Linked DNA regions of Homo sapiens. The protein of the gene in region 1 purifies or fractionates together with the protein of each later gene. This does not show direct contact. Each region holds a gene or a part of one and is shown in the gene's direction. Other genes may lie near its edges.

The links.
Region 2: the proteins of ATF6 (region 1) and STK40 purify together in Homo sapiens (affinity purification with mass spectrometry; 2 studies listed by BioGRID and IntAct, with this or other methods). This does not show direct contact.

Annotation. Positions count from the first base shown.
Region 1 is NC_000001.11:161,787,644-161,802,829, forward strand, and holds part of ATF6 (cyclic AMP-dependent transcription factor ATF-6 alpha), read left to right. Parts: intron 1-3,764; coding exon 3,765-3,894; intron 3,895-4,480; coding exon 4,481-4,684; intron 4,685-14,408; coding exon 14,409-14,629; intron 14,630-15,186.
Region 2 is NC_000001.11:36,349,496-36,364,681, reverse strand, and holds part of STK40 (serine/threonine-protein kinase 40), read left to right. Parts: intron 1-3,341; 5' UTR 3,342-3,349; coding exon 3,350-3,461; intron 3,462-5,844; coding exon of another isoform or gene 5,845-5,859; coding exon 5,860-5,945; intron 5,946-6,299; coding exon 6,300-6,443; intron 6,444-9,248; coding exon 9,249-9,476; intron 9,477-10,265; coding exon 10,266-10,318; intron 10,319-15,186. UniProt on the Homo sapiens protein: May be a negative regulator of NF-kappa-B and p53-mediated gene transcription.

The DNA of each region.
Region 1 (15,186 bases):
GAAGGAATATTTTCTAAGTGACTATGAATAAGTATTTATCATGAGATATTATTTTTAGTGTTTAGATCTCGGATCCATTTGAAATTACCCTTGTGTATTATATGAGATACAAATCCAATTTTATGTTTTTCCAAATGACTATCAAAATGATTATTCTAGTACCATTTATCAAAAAGTTCATCTGATTTCAATTATATGCATGTATTTTAAATTTATGTAAATGGCATTATAGTAGATATCTTTATATTATTTACTTTTAAAAATCAGCACAGTGTTTTTAAGATAAATTCCTATTGCTCTGTGTACATCAAATCTGTTGCATCTAACTCTGTACAACATTCAAGTATGCATTCACTACATTTTTACCTACACCATAATGAATATTTTAAAAAATGTTCCCTTGCGGACCCATGTGAGAAATCCTTTAGAATATATGCCTAGAATTGCTGGGTAGTAGAATGTGCAGGTATTTAATTTGACAAGTGCTTCCATATTTCTCTCCAGGATCATCATAGTACTCTGTGGGCTGGCAGCAGTGCCTGAGGATCCCTGTGACTTCTCTCCTGATACTTGGCATTGTCTGCCTTTTTAATTTTTACTCCATGGCACAATGTGTTTTTTTGTTGTTTGCTTTTATTTTGTTTTACTTTGTATTTCTTTGGTTATTGTTTTCAACATTTATTTACATTCTTATGAGCTTTTTGGACTTTTTTTCTTTTATACATTGTTTATTCCTGTCCTTTGCCAGTTTTTCTACTCAGTTGTTGTCTTCTTGTTTATCAGCAGGAATTCCTCATATACTTGAAATAGTAAAACTCTTGTTGGATTTAGACATTCAAATTGCCTATATCTTTTCCCTTTCTATTATCTATTAACTTTGTAGTCTTTATTAAGTATAAATAGTTAATTTTCAATTACTCAGGCTTATCTTTTTTTTTCTTTTCCTTTATGGCTTATTTAAGAAGTCCTTCTATGCTTTTAGAGCACAGAGGTATTCTGCATTTTCTTTTATTAACCATATGGTTTACCTTTCACATTTAGGTTTCTTAATACTCTTAGACACCACTTTAATATGTGGTATTATGTAGGGATCTAGCACTAGGTAGGGATCTAATTTTAATTTTCTCTATAAAATGAATCAGTTTTCCTAACTGTATTGTCTTTATAATCACTTGTAATCACTCTTTTCAACAATATTGTATATCTCTCTGTTTACTGAAATCTTTTATGCCTTAGTTCAGTTGTGTAGTTTTCTTCATATGGGTCCTGCACATTCCTTAGAAAATTTCTAGGTATTTTGTAATTGTTATTGCTATTGTGAGTGAAATATTTATTTATTTGTTTTATTTAAATCTTTTTTATTTTTAACTTTTTTTGGGTACATGGTAGGCATATATATTTGTGGGGTACATGAGATGTTTTGACACAGGCATGCAATGTAAAATAATTAGATCATGGAAAATGGGGTATCCATCCCCTCAAGCATTTATCCTTTGTGTTATAAACAATCCAGTTACATACTTTTTGTTATTTTAAAATGTACAACTAAGCTCTTATTGAGTATAGTCACCCTGCTGTGCTATTAAATAATATGTCTTATTCCTTCTCCTTTTTTTTTTTTTTTTTTTTTTTTTTACCCATTAACAATCCCCATCTCACTACCAGCTTCTCAGTACCCTCCCCAGCCTCTGGTAACCATCCTTCTACCCTATGTTCATGATTTCAATTGTTTTGGTTTTTTGATCCCACAAATAAGTGAGAACATGTGATGTTTGTCTTTCTGTGCCTGGCTTGAAATATTTATTTTTTATTATGTTTTCTAAGTGTATATTAATACAATATTTTCAAGTCAAATTTTTTTTTCAGTGGATTGTTACATGTGCTTCAAGTATATAGCATATTACCTTGCTAAAAGGCACGCTGTCTCTTTTGTTTTAATGTTTTTTAAATTTCTTCTTTTAGTGTAATTATACTAGAATTACAGAAAAAGCAGGTATCTATTTTTTATCCTGACTTTAATTGTAATGCATTCAGCATTGGACTTGGCTGTATAATTACTGATAGCTTTTTAATGTTAAGAAAGTATTCCTCGGATCCTTGTTTTCTAGGATTTTATTGAGGAATACTTGTCGAATATTATCAAATACCTTTTAAGCATCAAAGGCCGTGAAGATAATAGTCTCCTCCCGTGTTACCTTGTACTCTTTGGTTTCTTGGAAATGTATTTTAATACACTCTACATATTGCTCAGCTTACATGCTGAGTAGGTGTTAAGGATGAAGGAAGATGCAATTGTCACTTGTCACTCTCACCAGTGAGACTGAGAGCATTTCTTTCTCCCATATCCTCTCAAGGTCATTTAAATTTTTTTTTATGATAAAAAAAGTTTAAATTTGCCTTTGACTACCATTTGCGTTTCCTTTTCAGTGAAATGGCTGTTCCTGCCTTTTGTCTATTTTTCGCAAATATTTTCTACCAATATATATCTTTTAACTTTGTTTATGGTCTAGTTTTTATTGTTAAATAGTTTACTTATTATTTGTTCAAATCTATTTCTTCTTCCTTTGTGGCTTCTGTGTGTTCTGACTTAAGAGGGTCTGCAACACCCTGAGAGTAAACAAGTATTCTCTTAAATTTTATTTTTATATTATAATCTTATAGATTATTTTGAAGATGTTATGAAGTAGAGATTATGTCTATTGCGTGATCATGCATGCCATCTTTTCTGTCTGAATTGAATTGCTACTTCTATGTTGTTTCTTTATTCTAACAAAATGAGATAGATTCACTGAATATTAAAAGACTTTGGGAAAATGCGAATGTTATCTTTATGTATCTCAATCATTATGAATTCACCTACTAAATTAAAGAAAATAGCACTGTTGGCTGGGTGGGGTGGTTCACGCCTGTAATCCCAGCACGTTGGGAGGCTGAGGTGGGTGGACCATATGAGGTCAGGAGTTTTAGAGCAGCCCAGCCAACATGGTGAAACCCCCTCTCTACCAGAAATACAAAAACTTAGCAAGGCGTGGTGGCACACATCTGTGGTTGTAGCTACTCGGGAGGCTAAGGCAGGAGAATTGCTTGAACTGGGGAGGCAGAGGTTGCAGTGAGCTGAGATTGCGTCACTGCACTCCAGCTTGGGCAACAGAGTGAGACTCTGTCTCAACAACAACAACAACAACAACAACAACAACAACAACAAAGCACTGCTCCATTCATGCATCTTTCTTTTACAACATTTGGAACAAAGGCAGTATTACAAAATAGAAAACAGAAAAGAATACAAATAAAATTATTTTGCTTTTGATATTCTTTTAAGACCAAATAAGAGAGATTATGGAGAAAGGATATTGGCATTTTAACTGCAACCTTATACTGATACTGAATGTTTGTATGACTACGAACCAAGTTTTATATGTGTGTGTGTGTGTGTGTGTCTCTGTGTGTGTGTGTGTGTCTCTGTGTGTGTGTGTGTGTGTGTGTGTGTAGTTTGTAGGAAGAAATGTAGCAACAGATCAATGATTCATATCTTTAACAGGATGGCATAGACTTACTCTGCATTTTGAGTTATTTTTCCTTTGGTATAGATGGATCATGCTGATAGTCACTTATTACTTAATATATATATACAGTTTCTAATATACCTTTCCTTTGAAGTTACCCTGAAGTGTTTTTCTGTTTATATGTGGGTCTCCTCCTTTTCTATGCAATTTGCTGCTTAAGGATTATACTCATTAATTTTTGTTTTTATTATGCTACAGGAGGAGTTGGATTTGTCTTCTAGTTCTCAGATGTCTCCCCTTTCCTTATATGGTGAAAACTCTAATAGTCTCTCTTCAGCGGAGCCACTGAAGGAAGATAAGCCTGTCACTGGTCCTAGGAACAAGACTGGTATTACTCTATCTCCTAACTTCTGTTATTTCTATTTCAGATTGAGCTTAGGTTCCATTTCTTAAAAGAAAATGCTGGATTAAATTTATGTTTATTAGGCTGGCTTGCTGTTTTTTAATTGGTGGACCTATATTGTTTGTTGTGAGTGATTACCGTGGAGAGGAAAGGGGAGAAATAATCTTTGGTTGTCTCTGTCTTTACAGGTGAAAGATACTTTAAAATAGACTCAGACCCCACCATCTTCAGGAGAGATTTCAAAGTTTCAGTTAAAGATAACTGAATGGAGCTATGACATTTGTTACCTCATTAATCTCTGGGTGTTATCCCGTGATTTTAGCAATTCTCCTTTACCAGTTAGTGTGTCCCATTCCCAAAACTGCAGCTTGGTTAGAAAAGGAGGTAACAGTTTAAGTACTTTTCTTCAGTTCATTCAGGTATATGTACTGTAGCTATGCTTAAACTCCAGTTAAAGATTGTTAATCGAAGTTAAGATAATGTGTAGAGAAAGGTGTGTGATAGAATCTGTTTTTTAGGGCTTGCGTAATTGCTTTCACATTGACTTGTGGTTTGTCTGGTTTTTCTCCAGAAAATGGACTGACTCCAAAGAAAAAAATTCAGGTGAATTCAAAACCTTCAATTCAGCCCAAGCCTTTATTGCTTCCAGCAGCACCCAAGACTCAAACAAACTCCAGTGTTCCAGCAAAAACCATCATTATTCAGACAGTACCAACGCTTATGCCATTGGCAAAGCAGCAACCAATTATCAGTTTACAACCTGCACCCACTAAAGGTACCTGAGCAGAATTTAAGGCTGTGTAAATTTATTTGGAGGGCAGTAAGGGTTGTGTCATATGATTTGTTTTAATTCAGGTTATAATTTCTGAGCACGTGCTGTTTGTCAGGAATGTCTTTGGTTATGAGGACGTTGCAGAGATGACTAATGTGTGGTTCCTGTCATAACAAGGGATATAGCTCTCCAGACCAGTTACATCTGATGGTTATTTTGAAAATCTGGGACACTTTCTTGGTGCCATTTTATTCTGGTGGATAAAATACAGGAACACAAATTTTAAGCTAGTTGAAGGCAGAGTTCAGGTCAGCCAGATTTTTGTGGCTGTGAACTTTTTTTGTTTTGAAGGAATATTTAAAATAATAGGGTCCATTTCAGGTGTGTTATAGCAATAGAATCACACCCTTAATCTCTGAGGAGGCTGCATGGTTTAGTAAACAGTATATTGACCTGGTCATGAGGAGACCTGAACTCTGCTTTCAACTAGCTAAGAATTTGTGTGTTTCGTATTTTATCCACCAGATGGCCTCATACACTTGTGATTCTATGAGAGGTTTATGTCATTATTGAAAGAAGTTCAAGTCTGAGGATTTGGTACTATTCAGATATGGGAGTCATTTCCGTATGGAGATCTCTTAGGTAGATTAGTCATCATTGTACTCATACTGATATCTGTATACACTGGGTACAAGAAAACTTTTGCAGCATTCTTATCTCTGGATTTAGTTTGTTGGCACCAGATATGACTAGGCGATAATGGGGTATGGGTTGTAAATAAACACCAATGTTACATTTGTACTGTATCTCCAATTGTGAATAGGTAGCTCGTTTTTTGGAGCATAGTTTTAATGAGGGTAAATTTGATAAATTTAATTTCCAGATACTCTTTTAGCTTTGTTCTATTACATGGTCATAGACAATATGACATTGATAAAAAGAAGACCTAGATGAGAGAATGGATGAATCAGTGAAAATTCATCCATCAGTCCCACCAAAAATAAACAGACAAACAAACAAACAAAAACCAGTTTGAAATGCCTGCTCTCTCAGTACAAAGTCAGAACTGCTGCCTTTTCCATCTGAAAAGTAGCATTCCTATAGAATAGGTATTCTTGTGATTTATAAATGTGTATTAAGGGTTCATGAACTCCTTGAAACAAAATGCAGGATTTAATGTATGTTCATATGTGGATTATTCTAGGGATAGTCTCCAAAACTTTCATTAGGATCTCATAAGGATCTGTGCCTTCCCAAAGGCTAAGAATTTAAACTAATGAAGAACCTCATTGTAGTTCCCATAAGCTATTAAAATACGTCTATACAAAAAGTCTGACATTAATATGACTAGCGTATAAAGCAGGGGTATTCCTAAGAATTTGCCCTTAGCAGATCATTGACTATGTTTGAGTGATGGAAGATCTTACCTATAATAAGAAGACAAACTGTTCTTTTCTGAGCAGTTTATCAGTTCCAGAAACCTGAATTACACATTATTTGAAACTTCAATACTTTCCTGTCATCTGAAGACTATAGTTATTTTTTTGTGAGCATGTGCTAATATGAGGAACTGCACCTTGCCTGTTTTTTTTCTTTTATTTGAGACAGAGTCTCGCTGTGTTGCCAGGCTGGAGTGCAGTGGTGTGATCTTGGCTCACTGCAACTTCCACCTCCTGGGTTCAAGTGATTCTCCTGCTTCAGCCTCCAGAGTAGCTGGGACTACAGGCACGTGCCACCATGCCCAGCTAATTTTTATATTTTTAGTAGAGACAGGGTTTCACCATGTCGGCCAGGATGGTCTTGATCTCTTGACCTCGTAATCGCCTGCCTCGGCCTCCCAAAGTGCTGGGATTACAGGTGTGAGCCACCGCGCCTGGTGCCTTGTCTGTTTTTATAGTACAATCTAAATAGGTGGTATTATTATAATAACATACAGATTTAAAGTATGTTTTTCATTTATTTGAGAATGGGGAGGAAGAAGGGAAGTATGGGCAAGACATTATACAGTTAATCATGTTAATACTAGTAGTAAATATGTTACCATTGAAAAAGAAGAGGTAATTTCCACAGGTTTAAGACTGAGATTCTCTAGCTTGGAATGTAAAACTCTTCACAATTTGGCTCTAGTTTAGTTTTTTGTTTTTTTGTTATTGTTGTTTGTTTGTTTTTAATAGAGACAGGATCTCACTATATTGCTCAGTCTGGTCTCGAATTCTTGGGCTCAAGGGATCTACCCACCTTGATCTCCCAAAGCTCTGGGATTAAGGCGTGAGCCACCATGCCTGGCCTCCTAGTTTAGTTTTCGAACTTTATAATATTACTCTTTTCTATAAATCCCTTCTTCTAGCTCAACTAATCTGTCATTGTCCTTTGAATTCTCTTGTTTTTCCTAGTTTTTTGGCTCACCATTTTCTACCAACCAGCAACAACTTATGCCTACTTCTACTTCTCAGTCCTCCATGTCCTTTAAGACTGTTTTGAGTAGTGTAGATGAGAGATAATGAAAGCCTGGAATATCAATGAAAGTGGAGAACCAGGATGAAGAGTAGAGATGTTAAAAGTGTAGAATCTTAGAGATTGGTAATTGGATTGTGTAGAAGGAGGCTGAACGATAGAGAGGAAGGTGTCTAGGATGACTTCCGTTTTTCTATCTTGGGGCTTTTTGGGTAGATGATGGCGAAAATTATTGAAATGGGAGACAGAGGTAAAATATGTTGCCCAGATCACTCTGCTAATAAGAAGTGGAGCCAGAACTTGAGCCCAGGTGGTCTGGCTCGGAGTCTATGTGAATAATCACTATACTGTATCGCCTTAAAAAAAAAATGACAGATGTATTCCTTGCTCTCAAGAATTCTACACTTTAATTGGGGGATTAAATTCACATAAACAGTTAAATAACAGTCACTGTGATAACTAATAAATTAATAACTCATGCAGTGCCCTTATGGAAGCTATTATTATATAGAAAAGGAGATTAATAATAATAATAATTGCATTTAAGTTCTTACTATGTGCCAGACACTCTTCTAAGTGCTTAAGTGCATTATCTTATTTCAAATAATATTTACACATTATTTGAAACTTCAGTATGTTTCTATGATTTATGGTGATGGGTTGTGATATCTCCATTTTTTAGATGAGAACGCTAAGTACAGATTATTTGCCCTAAGTCACACACCGATGCTGTTTCAGACAAAGTAGGCATTCAATAAATGTTTGATACATAGTTTAAAATCTTTGAAGAAAGTTTAAAAGAAAGAACTATCAAAATCAGTGAGTTACACATAGTCAAAAAAATATATGGCATTGAATCCAGCCATGTTCCGTTAAGGGGGATTTGCATGTAATGCCAGAGAGGATTTTGAGCATGCTAAAATGGATAAACAGCCTTTGGAATGTCCTTTTTAACTGTTTCCACACTAGGAACAGTAGTAACTATGTTCAGCTGCTATTTAAGGCCCCAAACAATTCTTTGCATTGTAGTTTGTGGCCTGGTCAGCATTTACCAAGTCACCATGAGAGTTTTTTGTTCTTTCACTTGAACATATTGTCATAGAAATTTAGTTGTTTCCCCTCATTCTGTGTTGAACCCAAACATGCCTAGAATATTTAGAGTATCCCTGATTTAGCTGCTGGGTAATTTGAGGATAGTTGGGTACTCTGGGATGAAAAGGCTTGATACAATATGGGAAAAAAAGGAAGCAGCAGTGGCTTGGTAGGACTCAAGCCACATTTGGCCTTGCCTTGGTATTCTTCCATCTCCTTTGTGTGATGCGGTCGTCTCAGCAAGGAGACAGTGGTAATTACACAATTGGTAGTACAGATTTGGATTATTTTTCTTAATTAGTTTAAGAAATATTACAAAGCCCTCTGTACATGTTATCTGCTAGGGCTTTAAATCTGTAACTGTAGCTAGAAATAGGATTCTTTCTTATAAGTTGCCTAATTCATTATATTTACACCTCTTCTGTTCTTTAAAATAGTCCCAAAGTTCCCTGAACAGTGTTTAATTTTGGGGAGGGATCTTTTAATCATAATTTTAAACTCAGAGGATGTAGAACATGGCTTCCTATAATACTCTTCTCAAAGTATTGGTTTAAGTCAGTGGTTCTCAGTCTGTATATTGTGGACCCTGGGATGTGGGTGATGGGGGTAGTAGCTTTATGGCATTTTGCAAAGCATCTGCAAATCCATACTTGAAGCAAGCATTTTCTGTAGACCAAATAATTTATTTCATATATCTTTGTACAGCTCTTCAAATTTTTATAGCTATACTTCTGACTAATAAACTCCAAGTTCATTTTAAATCTTCACTAAATTCTTAGCAGCCTTTTTCCATCATGTATTTTCTCAGTACACAGAAGCTGAAAGGACAACCTTGATGGTTTTGGGTGACCAGGATATTATTTTATATTAAAAGAGAGCCCTTATATTCAGGAGCCTTTGGGGAGAGACTATGGGTTTTCTAGGTGTAGAATTATATCATCTGTGTGAGAGATGGTTTGACTTCCTCTCTTCATATTTGGATGCCTTTTATTTCTTTCTTTTGCCTGATTGCTCTGGCTATGACTTGAGCACTTGGGAATTCTTGTTTTTTGGTTTTTTTTTTCACATTATGATAAATATATATTTTCATAGTGCCAGATTTACTGTAATTTCTTATTGTTATTAAAACCTAACACTTGGTCATATGCTATTTACTTTATGTGTTTCTAATTTTTATTTGCGTATTTGGCCTAAGCATGTTTATATCTGCTTCTGAGTAATTTCTGCATTTTATATGTTTTTACTTCATAAAAGATGGAGGCCACCTCAAAACAAATTAGGCATCAAAGGAACATACCTCAAAATAATAAGAACCATCTATAGCAAGTCCACAGCCAACATTGTAATGAGTGGGCAAGAGCTGGAAGTACATTCCCTTTGAGAACCAGAACAAGACAAGGATGTCCCTCTCACCACTCATATTCAACATAGTGCTGGAAGTTGTAGCCATAGCAGTCAGGCAAGAGAAAGAAATAAAAGGCATCCAAATAGGAAGAGAGGAAGTCAAACTACCTCTCTTCACAGACGATATGATTCTATACCTGGAAAACCCATAGTCTCAGCCCAAGACTCCTAGATCTGATAAACAACTTCAGCAAAGTTTTAGGATACAAAATCAATGTACAAAAGTCAGCAGCATTTCTATACCCCAGTAATGTCCAAGCTGAGAGCCAAATCAAGAATGCAGTCTCATTCACGATAGCCAAAAAAAGAATATAAAGTACCTGGGAATACAGCAAGCTGGGGAGGTGAAAGATCTCTACAATGAGTTACAAAACACTGCTGAAAGAAATCAGAGATCACACAAACAAATGGAAAAACATTCCATGCTCATGGATAGGAAGAATCGATAGTGTTAAAATGGCCATACTGCTCAAAGCAATTTACAGATTTAATGCTATTCCTATCAAACTATCAATGACATTTTTCACACAATTAGGAAAAACTATTCTAAAGTTCACATGGAACTGAAAAAGAGCCTAAATAGCCAAAGCAGCCCTAAGCAAAAAGAACAAAGCCAGAGGCATCAAGCTACCTGATTTCAAACTGTACTACAAGACTACAGTAACCAAAACAGCATGATACTGGTATAAAAACAGGCACATAGACCGATGGATTAGATTAGAGAACCCAGAAATAAAGCTGCACCCCTGCAACCATCTGGTCTTTAACAAAAACAAACAGTGGGGAAAGGACTGCCTATTCAATAAATGGTGGTAAGATAACTGGCTAGCCATATGCAGAAGATTGAAACTGGATCCTTTCCTTTCAGTGTATACAAAACCCAACTCAAGATGGATGAAAGACTTAAATGTACAGGCTCAAATTATAAAAACCCTAGAAGAAAACCTAGGAAATATGGTTCTGGACATAGGCCTTGTCAAAGATTTCATGATGAAGACTCCAAAAGCAATCGCAACAAAAACAAAAATTGACAAATGGGATCTAATTAAACTAAAGAGGCTGGGCGTGGTGGTTCACACCTGTAATCCCAGCACTTTGGGAGGCTGAGGGGTGCATCACTTGAGATCAGGAATTCAAGACCAACCTGGCCAATATGGTGAAACCCCATCTCTACTAAAAATACATAAATTAGCCAGGCATGGTGGTACATGCTTGTAATCCCAGTTACTTGGGAGGCTGAGGCAGGAGAATTGCTTGAACCCAGGAGGCGGCAGGTGCAGTGAGCTGAGATTGTGCCACTGCACTCCAGCCTGGGTGACAGAGCTCAAAAATCAATAAATAAAAATCAACTAAAGAGCTTCTGCACAGCAAAAGAAACTATCAACAGAGGAATAGGACAGCCTACAGAATGGGAGAGAATATTTGCAAACAGTGTATCCAACAAAGGTCTAATCTCCAGAATCTACAAGAAACTTAACAAGCAAAAAACAACCCCATTAAGAAGTGGGCAAAGGATATGAACAGACACTTTCAAAAGAAGACATAGACATGGCCAATAAGCATATGAAAAAATGCTCAACATCACTAATCATTAGAGAAATGTAAATCAAAACAACAGTGAGATACCATCTCACATCAGTCAGAATGGCTACTATCAAAAAGTTGAAAAATATCCGATGCTGGCAAGATTGCAGAGAAAAGTGAATGCATATACATTGCTGGTGGGAATGTAAATTGGTTCAGCCACTGAACGTAGTTTGTAGATTTCTCAAATAACTTAAAGTAGAACTACCATTTGACCCAGCAGTCCCATTACTGGGTATATACCCAAGGGAATATAAAGACACACGCACACATATGTTCATCACAGAACTATTCACAATAGCAAAGACATGGAATCAACCTAGATGCCCATCAGTGGTGAACTGGATAAAGAAAATGTGGTACATATACACCATTCAATACTACACAGCCATAAAAAAGAATGAAATCATGTTCTTTGCAGCAACATGGATGGAGCTGAAGGCCATTATCCTAAGATAATTAATGCAGGAACAGAAAACCAAATACTTCATGTTCTGTCTTATAAGTGGGAGTTATACATTGAGTACACATAGACATAAAAAGGGGACAATAGACAACAGGGGCTACTTTTGAGGGTGGAGGATGCAAGGAGGGTGAGAATCTAAAAATTACCTGTTGGGTACTGTGCTCATTACCTGAGTGATGAAATAATCTGTATGCCAAACACCTGTGACATGCAATTTATCCATGTAACAAACCTGCCTGTCTACCCCCTGAACCTAAAATAAAAGTTGGGGGAAAGAAAAACTGAATCCAAGGGAAAACGAGAAGGTAAAAATGTTTAATGATCATTTATGCCGAAGTATTAATACATTGTATCTACTCCAAATCCATGAAATTATTTTTAGATCTTCTTATCTGGGATAAAATGCTGTTTATTGAAATTCTGCTACTTTCAGTGTGTTTTTTGAGGCCATCTGAAACAAGGGCTTTGCTTTTATAAGTTATCTTTTTTAGCCAAGACAGATGTTCTTGACAAACAGGTGTTCTGAAGCTTTATTTTGATTTTTAGTTTTCCCCGATCCTTTGAAATATTGAGCTGAGTTTTACATGGGTCAACCTGTCTGAAAGCATAATGCTTTTTTTTTCTTAAACAAATTATAAATTTACATGATATTTTAGTTGCCAGTTATTTTAGTACCTTCATTTTGTTAGATAGGCTCAAGCAGCTGTGGATGTTAGGCAAGGCTTTCAGCACCTTATAAAAATCTGCCAGATCTGAAAGGAAACACTTAGCAGGCAAGTAAAATTTTTAATAGATTAGTGTTATGAGTTGTATAAGTCTTTAGGTTAATGGTACAGGTTTAGTACCCCTTAAATGAAATGCTTGGAACCAGAAGTGTTTCAGATTTTGGGTACTTTTGGATTTTAGAATATTTGCATATACATAATGAGATATCTTGGGGACAGAACCCAAGTCTAACATGAAATTCATTTATGTTTCATGTATATCTCATACACATAGCCTGAAGGTAATTTTATATAATATTTTAAATAATTCTCTGCATGAAACCAAGTTTGCATACAGTGAACCATCAGAAAGCACAGTTGTCACTATCTCCTGTGGACAATCTGTAGTTGTTTGGCACCACCATCATTCCTGGCTCTGAATTCATATGCTACTGACAAGCAATCATTTTCTTACACTTATTCACAAATTCACACCTAAGAACTTAACAAAAATTATGACATACCATTAATACAGTGAAAAAATAATGTGTGCAGAGTAACAAGGCAGGACAGTAGAATCACCAGAATACCAGTGTCAGCTACTACACAACAGCAACAACAAAAAATGGCAGCTTTCAGTCTCTGCCTTTGATGCTGTTTTCATTAAAAGCCTACTGTACCCTCTATTTTATGTCTTCAGGTGAGAAGAAACATCAGAAGCAGTTGAGAGACTGGAAGTGGGTCCTCTAGGGATGAGGAGGCATTCTGCTGGATGACTTCTAAAAATGTTTTCTATGGAGTCATCTGCCTCATTAACAAGTTTTTGTTTTAGAAGTCTCTTTTTGATTTTGTAAACTGACATGATTTCTTTTTCTGTTATGACTGTATGCTGCTTTAGTCCTTCACTAGGCCCATCACACATTTTTACCATGTCATCTATAGGCACTTTTTCTGCAGCGTTAACAGCATCATCTTCATTGTCATTATTATAGATTGAGTATCCCTTATCCAAAATACTTAGGACCAGAAGTGTGGAGTTTTCCACTTGTGAAGTTGTGTCAGCACTCAAAAAGTTTTGGATTTTGGAGCATTTTGGATTTTGGGTTTTTGGATTAAGGATGTTCAACCTCTAATAATTCTCGTCAGATTAGCATAAATTTAAAATAATGATACCTCTGAATACTCAGAAAAGAATTGAAGGCCATTTTTGGGGGAAGAGGGAAAGGGCTGGTATCATCTACAGACTATTTTGAATCACAGATTTATGTTTACCGTGATTGTTAGCTAAGATTTAATCTCAAATGGTTTTAAGTTTTTTGGTATTTGTAGTCTTTTTTTTTTTTTTTTTTTTTTTGTCCTTTTTAGGGATCTGCCTGCCTCAGCCTCCTGAGTAGCTAAGACTCGAGGCACATACCACCATACCTGGCTAATTTTTAAATTTTTTTTTGTAGAGACAGGCTATCACTATGTTGCCTTGGCTGGTCTCAAACTGCTGGCCTCCCAAAGCACTGGGATTACAGGTGTAAGCCACAGTGCATGGCCTGTAGCTCCTTCTTCTTCTAATATTGAGTTACTAAGTTTATGTTCAGATATTTTTGGTATTGTATGCATTTGTAAATCCTATTAATTTAGAATACATGACTCTCCATATTCAGTGTAAAAGATTTGTTATTTATAATAAGACAAATCCTTTTAGCACTAATAAATTTCAGAGGTTAATTCTTAGAAATCTAGGGATTACAGCAAATTTGATAGCTGTTTAGTTGAGAAAGATAAATAAGAAAGTATATTAAAGTATATTGTTAATGATAACTCAAAGAGATGAATTTAGTTGGTCACATTAAAAACATAACAAAGTCACCATAAGCGTGTGCTGCTATTGATCCAATGTTTTAATTGATGGTGTCCAATCCCTTGGTGTTGATCTTACCCATTACGTCTGCAGAAAAGACCTAATTATAAGCTGCTTCCCCTGCCACAGTAGTTGTGTACCCTTTGATTCCTTTTCTTTTTTCTAACGCAGGCCAGACGGTTTTGCTGTCTCAGCCTACTGTGGTACAACTTCAAGCACCTGGAGTTCTGCCCTCTGCTCAGCCAGTCCTTGCTGTTGCTGGGGGAGTCACACAGCTCCCTAATCACGTGGTGAATGTGGTACCAGCCCCTTCAGCGAATAGCCCAGTGAATGGAAAACTTTCCGTGACTAAACCTGTCCTACAAAGTACCATGAGAAATGTCGGTTCAGATGTAAGTTTTGAAACTTAGTGCTTCTCTTAATGCCTGATTTAAAAACCAACAAAAAAACACCTTTTGCTTTTGTTGCCTTGTTTTTGTTTTTTTTAGAGTTTCTTATATTGCATCAAATAAAAGAGTGTGCTGAATTGCACATCTAGTCTTTGGAGGAAAATTAGGGTAAGGCTTACTACGTTAGAATCTAAGTGAAAAGGTTTTTGAAAGTGAAGTGGTTTGATGAAAAGCAAAGTATGCATACCTCCCTCTTCTTTACTCCTTCTTTAGAACCAACCCTCTTATTATTCTCTTCAAGCCCTTACACCCTCAACCCAGTCATCCACTAATATTTTACAGATTCAACGTTTCCTGATTGAAATGTTTTAGCGATCTTCAGATAAGAGTCTATAGATTACTTTTTAGGTAGGTTTTATATTTAGCTTTCTTCCTTGCCGTTTTGAAGTATTTTCACCACTTCATAATGATGACTAGCTACTCTTAGGAATTCTGTCTCTTAGTGATTATTTGGTACTTTCCCATTTTTGCAAACCTTTAAATTTTCTAGCATGTTGTAG
Region 2 (15,186 bases), about 130 Mb from region 1:
CAGCCCTTAACCATTTCTTTTTATTTTTTTAATTAAAAAAAAAAGATGAAAAAGCTATATGTCAGTTACATCCTTACATAGAAAGAGTTTCTAAAAATCAGTAACACTAATACATAGCAGTAAAAAATAGAAAAAGAATATAAAGGAAATTCATAAAAGAAATAATAGACACAGCCAGTAAGCATATGAAACAAATTCAACCTCAGAAATAATGAAAGAATTACGGATTTTAAAATGCTATGCTTTTTGTTGGCCACCCAATTAGCCATTTATAAGAGTAAGGAAATAACTCAGTCCTGGTGTAAGTTCTGGAACTCACTGGACTGTAAATTGGCACAGCCATCCTGGAAGCAGCCTGGCAGCATCTGTCAAATACCTTAAAAACATGTCCCCCTTGTATTAGCCTAATGGGGATTTTTTTTAAATGTGCCCCACTTGACTCTGCAATTCTGCTTCTTGGAATTTATCCAGAGGGAGACAGATAAGTATGACAAGATGTATATTTTTGTTGTTGTTGTTGTTTTTTCTTTTGAGACGGAGTCTTGCTCTGTCACCCAGGCTGGAGTACAGTGGTGCGATCTCAGCTCACTGCAAGCTCCGCCTCCTGGGTTCACACTATTCTCCTGCCTCAGCCTCCCGAGTAGCTGGGACTACAGGTGCCCACCACCACACCCGGCTAATTTTTTGTATTTTTAGTAGAGACAGGGTTTCACCGTGTTAACCAGGATGGTCTCGATCTCCTGACCTCGTGATCTTCCCTCCTTGGCCTCCCAAAGTGCTGGGATTACAGGTGTGAGCCACCGCGCTTGGCTGACAAGATGTATACTTGTATGTGCGTGACTATTAATTCTTTTTTTTTTTTTTTTTGAGACAGAGTCTCACTCTGTCACCCAGGCTGGAGTGCAGTGGTGTGATCTGGGCTCACTGCAAGCTCCGCCTCCCAGGTTCACACTATTCTCCTGCCTCAGCCTTCCAAGTAGCTGGGACTACAGGGGCCCGCCACCATGCTCAGCTAATTTTTTTTTTTTTTTGTATTTTTAGTAGAGACGGGGTTTCACAGTGTTAGCCAGGATGGTCTCGCTCTCCTGACCTGGTGATCCGCCCGCTTCGGCCTCCCAAAGTGCTGGTATTACAGGCGTGAGCCACTGCGCCCGGCTAATTCTTTTTAAATGGAAAGAACCTAGATGTCCATAAATAGGGAATGGTCAGAGAAATCACTGTATATTTGTACCAAGGAGCCTGTGTAGCTATCTCAAGTGATGTTGCAAAAGAATATTGTGATGCAGGGATGTTAATGGGTTTTTGTTTTGTTTTTTACAGCTTTATTGAGATGTATTTCACATACTATACAATTTATCCTTAATGGTTTTTGTTTGTTTTAAGATGGAGTCTTGCTGTGTCCCCTAGGCTGGAGTACAATGGCGCCATCTCAGCTCATGCAACCTCCGCCTCCCCAGTTCAAGCGATTTTCCTGCCTCAGCCTCCCGAGACAGGCGCCCACCATCATGCCCAGCTAATTTTTTTTTTGAGACAGAGTCTTACTCTGTTGCCCAGGCTGAAGTGCAGTGGCGTGATCTCAGCTCACTGTAGACTCCGTGTCCTGGGTTCAAGCGATTCTCGTGCCTCAGCCACCAAGTAGGTGGGATTACAGGTGTGCACCACCAGGACCAGCTAATTTCTGTATTTTTAGTAGAGACGGGGTTTCACCATGTTGGCCAGGCTGGCCTTGAACTCCTGACTTCAGGTGATCCACCCACCTCGGCCTCCCTAAGTGTTGGGATTAAAAGCATGGAGTCAATGCGCCAGACCTCCCTTAATGTATTTTAGGTGGGAAAAAAGGAAACATAAAATAGCATTACAGTGTGGTCCACATGTTTGTAATAATAAAACTTTATATAAGCATACACACAGTCACACACAGGAAAAACATGCTTGAATGTTAACAGCAGTTATATCTGGGAGGTAAGGTCATGGGTACCTTATTTTCTTATTTTTGCACATGCGTATTTTCTAATGTTTCTGCAGAGAACATCAGTTACTTTTATATGAAGAAAAATACAGGAACAGGCTGGAGTTCTGTGTTTTTGAGTCCATTATGGAAGGGTAAAGGCTACACTCCTAAGGTGGGTGTCAGGCCTCTATCCTGGGCCACCTCTCACCACTCCCTGCCTCGCGTTGGATGCTTCAGCAACACAAACTACCTGGCGTTGGTGGCTTGCATGCCATTTCTTACCTGGGCATGTTTGCTCACTGAGGCCCTCCTACCATGAAGGTCCTTGCCCCTTGCCTGGCCCACTCCTGTATCCTTAGGGAAATTTTCCCGGAGCCCTGCACCCACACTGGGCATCCTGTGACCCTGACCTTCCCCATGTGGAACTCGTCTGTACACATCTGTTTCCTTGTCCCCCCCGGATCCTGCTTTGCCAAGGTGTTTGACTTTGGAGAGCTGGAAGAGACAACTCCTCTTTTGTGTTTTTATCTGTTATTTTTAAATCTGTGTCCAGAGGTGTCTTTTAGCCTCTGGCCCCAATGTCCGCCTTTCATTTTTACGCAGGAGGATCTCGGGATTATCAGGCAAATCAGAGTGCTCAGTGATCTTCAGTAGTGTTCTTTAACTGACTCTTAAATACACAATGAATTTTCTTTTTCTGAAAAGTAATTCAGGAAAAGTTTGAGTTTATGAGGGAAGAGAAAGTAAACCCTGCCATTGACAACTTTGGGGGGTTCTTTCATCTGAGAGGACCAGAGAGTCAAGGAAAGATGGGGAGAGGGGTTCTCAGGGCTGTAGTCATCAAACTCCGTGGGCATAAGAAGCCCCCAGGCCTCGTGTAACAAGCATCCCATTCCTGGGGCCCACTGTCCAGATACGGGCCAGGAATGGGCACCTCGGGTCATTAGGCTGTAGGTATTTGGAGGGCAGGTCTCACTTTGGGAACAGTTGCTCACCTCAGGGCTGGGGTTCAGCTGGATGGGGCTGGCTCTCCTCTCTGTCTCTGTGGTAGTCTCTTGGGGCTCTGTTTGGCATTAGCATCTGCACAAAGCCCAGTTTTCTCCTCTCTGAATTTAACTGGCCACTTGGTGGTGGTGTGTTGGCTCCCCGCCTCTGTACCCTGTATATGCTGCCTTAAAGGATGTCCACCTTTAGCATCTAATTAATCCCAAGTAAAGGAGCTGTGGTTCTTTGTCACTTGGAGCCTTGGATGCTCCCCTGGTAGCAGGAGGAGTTGGAGGCAGCAGCGGCAGCTGTGTGATGCATCCCAAGTCAAAGGCCTGCAGGCTGGGTTAGCATAAGGAAACTCGCTGACTTACTCAGTGAGAAGGGGTCTTTCTGTCTTGTCTAGAGCTGAGAATGAAGCGGAGAGCATCAGACAGAGGAGCTGGGGAAACGTCGGCCAGGGCCAAGGCTCTAGGAAGTGGGATTTCTGGAAATAATGCAAAGAGAGCTGGACCATTCATCCTTGGTAAGCCTCTGACCTTTGGGAAAAATGGGTGGGCTGGGAGGCAGGGGCAGGGCACATTGGCTCGCATGATCTGACCTACAGACATCAGAGTGAGGTGGCCCACCCACAGCAGTGTGTGGTCCTGCCCTGCCCCAGGCTTGGTCCCTAGCTTCACTACTTGAAACAGAATATGTTTATATCAGTGGAAGACCCAAGCCTTGGGTCACTCTGTACCAGGGGCTGTCAGTGTTTTAGCCATACCAGCCTTAGATCAGCCTTAGCCAATAGCTAGGCTCCGACTCTCCCCCCAGAGAATCCTATGTGTGCCCCTAGAATGGTGACGTGCTCACAGGAAGCACACCCATTAGAAGTCATTAGCTGCATTAGAACCCAAGCTCTGGCCAGGTGCAATAGCTCACTTATGTAATCCCAGCACTTTTCGAGGCTGAGGTGAGAGGATCACTTGTGGCTAAGAGTTCAAGACTTTGCAAGCTTGGGCAACATAGTGAGATCCCATCTCTACTAGAAAAATATAAAAATTAATTGGGTGTGGTGTCACATGCCTGTAGTCCTAGCTACTTGGGAGGCTGAGGCAGGAGGATTACTTGAGCCCAGGAGTTTGAGGTTACAGTGAGTCGTGATCACGCCACTGCATTCCAGCCTAGGCAACGGTGCGAGACTCTCTCTCTAAAAAAATAAAATAAAATAAAATAAAATAAAATAAAATAAAATGAAAACCCAAGATCTATCATCCAAGGCACTGCTTTATGCCATTCTTGGATGGCATAATTTCACAAAGCATTTTGTATAGCCCCCCAAATTTATTTAAATTGGCACAGAAATCCTGGCACAGGTGTTGGCAGTTGGCCAGAGGAGCAGCAAAGCATTTCTGCATGATGCATAAGGACCAGCAGTCCAAATTGCTTATAGTCAGGGTTGCAGCCAGAGACTGGGCGTGAGTTTTACTTTGGGACAGCATTTTGGACTTACAGGCTCAGGATAGTTCCAGCTCCAGTCATTCAGTACATACTTAATGGTGTGTACCTACTACGTGCCAGGCCTGTGCTGTTTGCCAGGCCTGTGCTGTTTGCCAGGCATGCAGCAGTGAATAAGACAAGTTCCTGCCCTCACAGAGAAACAGAGTAAACAACTCACCAGTCATCACCGGTGGTGCAAGTGCCTTGAAGGAAGTTCCACGATGACGTGAGATGAGAAGGGCCCGTAGGTAGGGCAGGCAAGAAAGGCCTGTTTATGAGGAAACACCATATGAGCTGACACCTGAGGAGGAGAAGCAGCAACTGTGGGGAAAGCTGGGGAAGAACATTGCAGACAGAAGAAACAGCACTGCAGAGGCCCAGCAGCAGGAAAGGGCTTACCATGTTGGGAACTAGGAGCCCAACATTAGGAGCTGGAGTGTGGCATGGGACAGGGAATGGAACATCCTGTTAGAAAGGTGGGCGGGAACTGAATCATGCAAGGCCTTGGGGGCCAGACAAAGGAGTTTGGGTGGTATGTTAAGAGCAGTGGGTCTGTGAACATTGCACTGGTAAAAAGGAAAACCAAGAGCAGCGGAGCTTCGTTAAGAGTTTTTCACGCAGCAGTGGCACTGTGACATCAGATTTCCACTCTCAAAGCTTGGGCAAGGTGCTGTCACGGGACAGTGAGCACTGTGCATCTCCAGAAGTACAGAAAGTCCCCAAAGCTGGCACTTGGACAGGGGCCAGATGGCTGTATCAGAATCTCCAGGGAACCTGTTGCGGCTCTAGTTTCCTGGATCCTCACCCTGAAGTTGCTCTTCAGGGGATCCAGGATCTCTTGGGTTTTGTTGATTTTTTTGAGGCAGGGCTTTGTTCTGTTGCCCTGGCTGGAGTGCAGTGGCACAAACACAGTTCACTGCAGCCTCAGCCTCCTGGGCTCAAACGATCCTCCCACCTCAGCCTTCCAAGTAGCTGGGTCTACAGGTATGCTCCACCATGCTCAGCCAATATTTTATTTTTTGTAGAGAAGAAGTCTCACTGTGTTGCCCAGGCTGGTCTCAAACTCCTGGGCTCAAGCAGTCCTCCCACCTCAGCCTCCCAAAGTGTTGGGATTACAGGTGTGAGCCACCACACCCAGCCTGGATCTCTTGTTTTTAATAGATGCTCACTAGACATTCCAGCGTGCACCCAGGGTTGAAAACCTCTCTTTGGGAAATGTGTTTGCAAAAGCTGGATGTGCTCCAGGCAGAGCACACATACCCCTCTATTTTTGGAGGGGAGACCTTGAAAACTCTCCACCAGGAGACCTTGGAGGGTCAGTCCAGTACACATGAGCTATGGTGCCCTCCTGAATAGAAGGTCTAGTAAAAGACCACGTGGTGACCTGGCGTCGTGACAGCCAGGGCTTCTGAAAAGTAGACCAGCAGCTCTCTGTGCCGTAGGTCCCCGTCTGGGCAACTCACCGGTGCCAAGCATAGTGCAGTGTTTGGCGAGGAAAGATGGCACGGATGACTTCTATCAGCTGAAGGTAAGTGAGACATGGGGGTGAGGGTGCCTCAGGAACAGGGCCTGTCATGCCAACCCACTCCTCCCTCCTCCACCTTCACACCTGCGTCATTGTGAACAAGAGTAGCGCCATTTCTTCCCGAGAAGCAATCAAGTTCACAGTCTCCCTCAGAACAACTTCTGATTTAAAGAGTTTTGTCTGTGCATAAATTACATCACCATCATATTAAGAAAAACGATTTCACTTGGTGTGTTTGTGTGTGCATTGTGCACAAATGTCATGTGGTAAAAAGCCCCCTGCTTCCCCCGTTCTGGTTGTTCTGCTGTGTAAAGTGAGGTGTTCTGGTTTTGGTTTTATTTTTATGCTTTCCTAAAGATCCTGACCCTGGAGGAGAGGGGGGACCAAGGCATAGAGAGCCAGGAAGAGCGGCAGGGCAAGATGCTGCTGCACACCGAGTACTCACTGCTGTCTCTCCTGCACACGCAGGATGGCGTGGTGCACCACCACGGCCTCTTCCAGGTGAGCGGCCTTCCCCCTCACCCTTCGCGCTCACCTCTGGCTGGCTCTGTGGGCTGCCACTTGCTGGGGCCACAGCCATACGAGCAGCTCACGTGACCCTTGGGTGTCCCTGCCATGCTAGGTACATCAGGACTTCCAGGGTGGGTGAGATGGGCTGGGCTGGAAGTCAGGCTGGGCCACACTAGCTGTGCTCCTGTGGGGATGGTTATAGCCTAGCCAGGAATGCACACAGTTTGCATCTTAACAGCAGCCAGGCTTTCTTTGAAGAGCCACTTTTCCGAGAAAAGAGGAAAGCAAGAAGTCACTTAAAGACACCCGGGCCCAGGCCAGGCACGGTGGCTCACAACTGTAATCCCAGCAACGTGGGAAGCCGAGGTGGGCAGATCACAAGGTCAGGAGATCGAGACCATCCTGGCCAACAAGGTGAAACCCCGTCTCCACTAAAAATACAAAAATTAGCTGGGCATGGCGGCGCACACCTGTAGTCCCAGCTACTCGGGAGGCTGAGGCAGGAGAATCGCTTGAGCCCGGGAGGTGGAGGTTGCAGTGAGCCAAGATTGTGCCACTGAACTCCAGCCTGGGTGACAGAGCGAGACTCCATCTCAAAAGGGCCCCCTTGTCCTTTTTTTTAAAATTTTTTTTTTTGAGACATTTACTGGACAAACTGAAATGCCTGAGCAGGCAGAAGAACAGGTGGTCAGATCCCTTAGGAAAGGTATTGATTAACAGTGTGTACCTGACAAGAACCATTCTTGGGGCAGCACTGAAGTTGTATCTCCAGAAATGAAGAGTTGGGTTCAGAATGACTGGGAGGCCTCCTTCACAGGCTTGGGAACAGCCCCATTCCTCAGCTGAGCATCCACTGAGCCCTCAGCCGTTTGCTGGCCAGGACCAGCTCTTGCTAAGACAGACCTGCTGTTTGAGAGGCACACAGTGCCAGAGAGAGCAGTCACATTTTGATGCTGACAGTCCTGGATTCAGCTAGTATGACCTTGGGCAAGTCACTTAAGGTCTCTAGGCCTCAGATTCCCCATCTATAAAATGGGGATAGTGATAACAGTACCTACCTCCATTGGTGGTTGGGACGATGAATGAGATTGTGTCAAGCACTGAGCTGCTGCTGGAACACTGTCATCATCATTGCTGTTCAGGCATAAAAACTCCTTGTCAGCTTGAGTTCCTAAAATAAAACAAAGGGAAAACACTTCCCATCCCCATGTATACACCCCAGCAAGGTCTTTGTTCTTAGATTTGCAATTAGAGGTGACTCAGAGTATTTTTAGGCAACTCCAAAAATTAGAGTATCCCCATAAACATGAAATCAAATTGAGGGTGATTGTGGTTTCTTGGTATTTTGTCTGTGATATCTTCAGAAGCTTGGCCTTAGTTCATGTCATTTTGGATGAGAGAACCTGGGTGATCAGAAGTGTTTCTAGTGTACTGTTTGTGTGCCAGACACTGTGCTAGGAAAAGCAAATATGAGGTGTGGTCCTGCTCTTAAGAAGAAATGTGGAGGCCGGGCGAGGTAGCTTATGCCTGTAAACCCAGCACTTTGGGAGGCTAAGGCGGGCGGATCATGAGGTCAGGAGATTGAGACCATACTGGCTAACACGGTGAAACCCCATCTCTACTAAAAGTACAAAAAATTAGCCGGGCATGGTGGTGGGCACCTGTATTCCCAGCTACTCGGGAGGCTGAGGCAGGAGAATGGCATGAACCTGGGAGGCAGAGCTTGCAGTGAGCCGAGAGCGTGACACTGCACTCCAGCCTGGGCAACAGAGTGAGACTCCGTCTCACAAAAAAAAAAAAAAAAAAAAAAAGAAAAAGAAGAAATGTGGATATTCAGTCCTTCAGGAGTTCCCCAGAGGGGACAGTCAGTCTACCCCGCATGACACCAAGGACTTCCTCAAGCTGGTCAGATGAAGTCCCCCTGTTTTTTGTCTTACTCGAAATACCTTTCAGCAAGGAAAATGGGTCTAGAGTTTGCTACCATTGTGTCCATCTCGCAGCCACAACATTGGTGGCAGTACCCACTTACTGAGCCCTGGCAGTGCATGACCTAAGCACAGGACATGGATTGTCTTATTTACTTCTCTTGGGCTGTGGGGGAAAGATTACTAGCTCCCTTTTACCGATGAGGAACTAGAGACCTGGAGAGGGTAAGCAGACTGCCCCAGGTCCCACAGCTAAGACAAGGTGGCTGGGGCCTGAACCCAGCAGTCTGAGGTCAGAGTCACTCTTAGCCATCATGTGACTGTCGGGAGTACTGCATCCCGACAGTCCTCTTTTCTGAGAAAAGAGGAAAGCAGGAAGGCACTTGAGGAAAACAGGTGTCCTGGATACACAGAACCTGTATGGCCTCTGGAGCCTGCCAAGATTGACCTCTTTCTAACTTCCGCCATCTTAGATATCAAAAGGGGGTTCTGTTGGTGATTACTGGAATCTGGGTGCCATGGATTCCCATTTTTGCTGCTTGAGCACTGGGCTAAGAGGGCCCTTGGGCTCTAAATGCCCAGACCTGATCTGAATCCTTTGCATTATGATCAAAGCATTAAGCCTTCACCTGAGATGTTTTAGCTTCAGCCTCTTGCTGGTCCTGGCATTTGGCACACAAGAGGCTGCACAGTGCTGACCTGCCCCATGGTCTAGGCTGCCCAGGCCTCAGTCCTCTCTGGCCCGCACATGCAGGCTAATTCCAGGCTCCCTCACTGGTTTGAGTGTCCCACTCCAGAGGAGAGTCCCAGGCCCTGGCCTTGGCCCTGCCAAGTTCACAGCCAAGCCCTGCGCTACCCCCTTGCCTCCCAGGACCGCACCTGTGAAATCGTTGAGGACACAGAATCCAGCCGGATGGTTAAGAAGATGAAGAAGCGCATCTGCCTCGTCCTGGACTGCCTCTGTGCTCATGACTTCAGCGATAAGACCGCTGACCTCATCAACCTGCAGCACTACGTCATCAAGGAGAAGAGGCTCAGCGAGAGGGAGACTGTGGTAATCTTCTACGACGTGGTCCGCGTGGTGGAGGCCCTGCACCAGGTGAGGCCACACCCTGCTGCTGCGCCTTCTGGCCACAGAAAGCCACCTTTCTTGCTGCTGCTGAGCAGAAGGCAGCTCTGTCCTGTGCACCCAGGTGTGCTTTGCAGCTGGGAGTGTCCAAAAGAAGAGTGACTGAATGGCAGGTGCACAGGGTGAGGCACAGTGCCACCCTGCAGGCCACCTTCCTGGTGAGGGCTGACCTGCAGCCCAGCTGTGGTAATTACCACAGCCAACTGTGTTAATTCCCCATCAGTTAAGAGGCCTGGTGTCCACCCCCATGTAGTGATGACAGTGAGATACCCACCCAAGCAACTACAGCACATCTGAGCTTTTTGTAGGATTAGAGGTGTCAGGCACGCTGGGACAAAGGATAGGAGAGCCTGAGCCTCTTCCCGGTGTGCCGCTTCTGTGGGCCGAGCCTGTGGTACTTAGTCACAAAGCCATGACAGCTCCTCCCCGACCCCCAGATCCATCCTGTCCATGGAATGTCTAATGGAGGGGAAAAAATGAGTGACTTTCGCCACCAGCCACTGCCCTGAGGGGAGAAAGAGCTAAAGAAGCTGCCACAGATGGGGAGACACTGACTAGGTGCACATTCATTCCCCATCCAGACGCGCAGGTCACGCGAACTTAGAACTGTCCTGATCTGCCTGTGCTTGGAGCCTAAAGAGACACATCATAGAATTTTTCCTGCCTTCTCGAACACCTGGAGAGCCCCCATCTTACAGGGTGGGCCCTGACCCCACCTCTCACATTGACAATGTAAACCATACGCCTGTTGTTTTACAGAAAAATATCGTGCACAGAGACCTGAAGCTGGGGAACATGGTGCTCAACAAGAGGTAAGATCCCTGTCTCTACATCCATACAGTTACCCCGGGGCTGGGGCAGGCTACACATTGCAACTCTCCAGTGCCCTGAAGTGTCCTCATGAGGATTCCGACTCAAAACAACCCACTTCCTCCAGGAATCCCAGGGCTCGGGATGGGATGAACATGGGAATTGGGGGCTTGCTGAGACTGGGAGTTTTGAGCCACAGAAAGGGAGCTCTGGGAAGAACTTTAGATCTCCCTTGTCCATTTATTTGTCACACCTGGCTCCTAGTGGGTACTCATAAAATTACTATAAAAATGGACTAAATGGTCAGGTGCGGTGGCTCCCGCCTGTAATCCCAGCACTTTGGGAGGCTGAGGCGGGAGGATCACTTGAGCCCAGGAGTTTGAGACCAGCCTGGGCAACATAATGAAGACCCCATCTCTACAAAAATATATATATTTTTTGAATGGACAAATGGGGTGAAGGAACGAGCAAAATGATGCCTTGCCATAGGTCAATTTCCTCAGGAAACAGACTCTGAGGTTTACGTGCAGAAGGTTTACTGTGAAGTGCTCTCAGGGTGAGGGGGTGGAATTAGGCAGAGGGAGAAGCTGAACCGCAGTGAAGTCCCAGCAGGGCCTCAGCCTGAAAAACTCGAGAGTGGGATGGCCTGCAGATGGCCCGCGCTTGGCCTTTGTGCCCCCACAGCAATCAGTCACTGAATGTCTGCTGTCCTTAGGGAGGGGCATTCTCTTAGGCAAGGCAGCTTCTTTTGGCTAAGAGGGCCTCCTGGAGAGGGATGCAGCTGTGAGTGGTTACCTGTAAAATGCCACCAGCTCTCTCAGCAGCAAGGAGAGCATGCCTTAGACTTGGAGGGGATCTGGCGGCCCACCCTTGTTGGGGTGAACCAGCAGCAGAGGGACACCAAGCACGGCCCTGGTTTCAGGTTGTCATCCCGCCTCGACAGAGGGTCCTGGGCCTCTTTGGAGTGATCTGGGACAGTGCTACCACTGTCTCACCATGTTAGAGGGACCACCAACCATGTAGGAACCCAGGACCAGCAGGAAGTGGGCCCACTCTGTGGGCTACCATGATCCTTGAAATGCAGGGCTGAGAAGGGCACATCTCCCCCACTCCGCCCCCACCCATTATTTCTGAGCTCCCCTCTGTCACCTCTCAACTCGGCATTGAGCAGGTTGAAGGGCTTACAAAGGCAGCCTGAATCTCACAGCAGAAGTGTTGTGGTGGGTGATTCATTCCATGATGTGGCCAGCCCAGCCCAGGAAGGGCCCGAGGCCCACTGTCCTCTAAAGAGGCCAAAGCCACAGTGGTCAGAGGAAAAGAAGCTGCCTGGAGGTTGGCCTCCGGGGAGGGGGCATTGCCTTGTGCCCCATCTCAACTGATGGGGAATTACTGCTGGGGGTTCCAGATCCCATAGCTCCAGCCTGAGAGGCCATCGGGACGATGCTGTGCACCTCAGCTGCTAAGCATTCTCCATCCTTCGACTAGCACCACCTGGTGCTGGGGCTGCAGACAGAAACGCTCAGTGGTTCCCACTACCCTCTGGAGCCCACCATCTGATGGTGTACTGACCAGAAGATGGTATCATGTGTGGAGGACTGGCGTGCAGAGGGCAAGGGACATGTGGAGGGACAGTGGCTGCCACCTGAGTCAATTCGTGAAGGATGAGTTGGGATTTGCCAGGCTGAGAAAGTGAAGGGATGAGAACCTTGCCCTGCTATGCTCTGCAGGGGGAAGGGAGGGAAACAGGAAATTCCAGAGCTGCTTGAACCCTGGACTGGCTGAGTGAGTGAGTTGAGGAGGACGGAAGCAGCACTGACATGGGGGTCAGACCTGGCTCACTTCCCAGTGCCACTTCTTCGTTATCTTGGAGACCGTGAGAGTGTGGTCCTCTGGGTACTTACTGATTGAATTCATATATTGAGGTACCAAGCACTTCTCTGAGCTTCCATTTCCTCATCTGTGAAAGTGAAGGTCATCCTGGCTTCCTGGGAAGATTGGCCTGAGATGCAAATCAGTGGGTGTGAGGCTGCGTAATATGATGGGGTTTGGCGCATCACGGGCACACCCCAGTGCTAATGTAGCCAGGACTGGAGAGCCTGTCGCTGAGAGACAGGAGAACAGGACCCATGGGCTCACATCTCTGGAGATGAGGCCTGCTGCATGTTGAGTGGCCAACGAGGACACCCCTGGTGAGGGCCCAGCGGTCCCCCAGCCATAGCTCTGCATCATGAGAGGAGGTGGTGGGGAGCCCCGAGCAAACCAGCCCTGGGCTGTGGAGAGCCAGTTGTCATAAAGTTGGGAAATTGGGTCCTGCCCCTTCCCCTGGCCCTCTCTGGGGCCTTGGGCCAGTCCCATCCTGCTGTGGACTACAGGCTTACTGTTCACAAAGAGAGAGCATATTTTTTGGGCACCTAAATCCATCTGGCTGCAGAGCCCATGTGCCCTCCAGCTGGACTAGAGAGCTCCCAGACCTTCCACAGCAGCCATTCATTGGCTGTAAATGAACATCCCAGGGTTGTCATGGGAACTTGCCGGGCTCATGCCTGCTAACCACACCAGCACTCCTGGCCCTTTGTGTCACTGGGGGATTTGCTTCCAACTCTCACTTCCCCAGGGCCCCTTGGTCCTGGGAGTGTAGTCGAGGGGTCGCACCTCCCTGCATACGCCGGCGTGGCTGTAGCAGCTCTGCTGTGAGTGTGAGTGCGTGCTCCTCAGGGTGCAGAATGCCAATGCCTCACTCATACCCAGTGTCCTGGTTGTACTTCCTGAATCTGATAAATCCCCCTTTTTGTGTCTCAGGGCAGACAGAGGTTCTGGCTGCCTTTTACTTGAGTCATGGGCGCTCCAGAGTGGCAGGGTAGTGTGGTGCAGAGAGACTCACTGCTCCGTGTGTGTCCTCTGGCACACCCTCCGCTCTGGGGCCCCACTCTCACCTCGTTCAGTTGACCTGAAGGAGCTCCAGCCCACTCCAGCCCCTTCCCACCCATCATGCCAGGCTATAACTCCACTGGAGCAGTAGGCGGACCAGCTGGAGGCCTTCTCAGCAGAGCAGAGAGCTCTCAAGGAGCAGACAGGGGGAGGTGTTGGCAAGGCAGCTGCAACAACAAGTTCACCCCGCTTTGGATTTTAAAAGGATCGAAATTCGAAATCCTCTTCTGGGGTTATGTGAGGTGCTGTGGGGTCTTTTTCCTTCCTCCTTTCTTTTTGGTAGGCAAGCAACATACCAAGTTCCTAGAAAAGGAGAAAAACACTGTGGCAGCCCAGAGGGCCATAGCTAAAGCGTGACTCACTCAGAGCCGATCCTACTGACACACGTCCCCTCCCTCCGTCCCACTCTGCCATTGCCCCCTCCTGTCAGGACCAGACTAGGGGGTCTGGGACTCCCGGGGAGCCATGCACCCCCCACTTGGGTGGTGGTGGCAGGGCAGGGGAGTGTTGCCAAACCTCAGGAGGACTTGGAGCTGCCCGTGCCACTTCCTGTGGAGAGACTCCAGTGCGCCTGCCGCTCAGCCCTGCAGAGCCTCAGCTGTGCCTGCCCGTGCCCTGGCAGAGGGTGGGAAAGTCCCACCAGCAGTGTTGAGTTGAAAGCTCAGCCACACTGGCATGTGCTCTCCGGGGCCTGTTGTCACACCATGGCACCTCTCCCCTACCGCCTCCAAGACAGAGTCTTTTCCTACCAGGTGTGCCAACCATCGGAGATGAGAGGACACCAGCTTCTACTATTTGCCAGGCATTGGGCTAAGTGCCCTCCATGAGATTATCTTATCTTGCTGAATCCTAACCCAGTTCTGGAGTTTGGTGCTGGGATTTCACTGTTGTACGCATGAGGAAATTGAGGTTTAGCAAGAGATTCACAGAGCAAGGAAGTGGCAGAGCCAGGACTAGGAACCTGGCTCCCAAACCCACCGTACTTTCTCCTGAGCTGTCCTCCTCTCAGCGTCTTGAGCCTCAGAGACCCACAGGATGCATTTGCAGCTTCCGCGGCCATCTCTGACCAGGGGAGAAAACCCACAGTGCCTCTGCTCTGTGGGAACCTTCTGGACAAGAGGCCCGAGCAGCCCCATATTCAGGGCAGCGGCACTGGAGCTTCAGAGCTAGAGCAGCCCACTCCTTGACGTGCAAGTGACCCTTTGCAGTGACCCTTCACCTGTGCGATCAGGCTCTAGCCGCCTGCGGGCCACCAGTCAGACTCCTATGGCAGCTGACAGGGCGGACCTGTATAGGCGCTGGAGTTGGCGTTTCCGTGGGGAATCCAGAGGACGGGCTGGCCTTTGTTTTGCATCGAGCCCTTTGCCAGCAGAATTCCCCGAGATCACCGAGGGCTCTCAGAGCCGCCTGGATGCGGCTCCCGGGGAAATCCGCCAGCAGCCACACATGCCCTCTGCCTCTGAGAGCTGATTGTAGGGAGAGGCAGCCCAAGGCCCCCATGGAGCTCTCCTTCCTGTTGTCCTCCCAGCTTCTCCCCCTAGCTTCTCCACCCAGCCAGCCGACACAGGAGCAGGGCAGTTGGGTAGAGAGGCATCCTTCCTCACTGCCTGCCCCAGTGGGCCAGGAAACCTTTCCCAGGCCTCTTAGACAGGGCCTGCCCACCCTCCCAGCCCCCAGTGTGGTGTAAGGTGTAAGGGTCCTCTCGGGGCACTTCCTTTTGTCCACATGTGAGTTTTCTCCAAAGGATCAGAGCCCAAAGCTGCCCTGCCCCACGCCTTTCAGAGGGAGGGTCTGTGATGTTCTAGCCAGGGCAGAGTCACAAGTACGAGGTAAGGGATGAGTCAGCTTTGATGGAACAGAAGGAAAAGTCATTCGGGGCCTGGGGCCCTGCCCAGGGACACATCTGGGCATGAGGCAGCTGTCAGTTGTGTGTGCAGCTCTG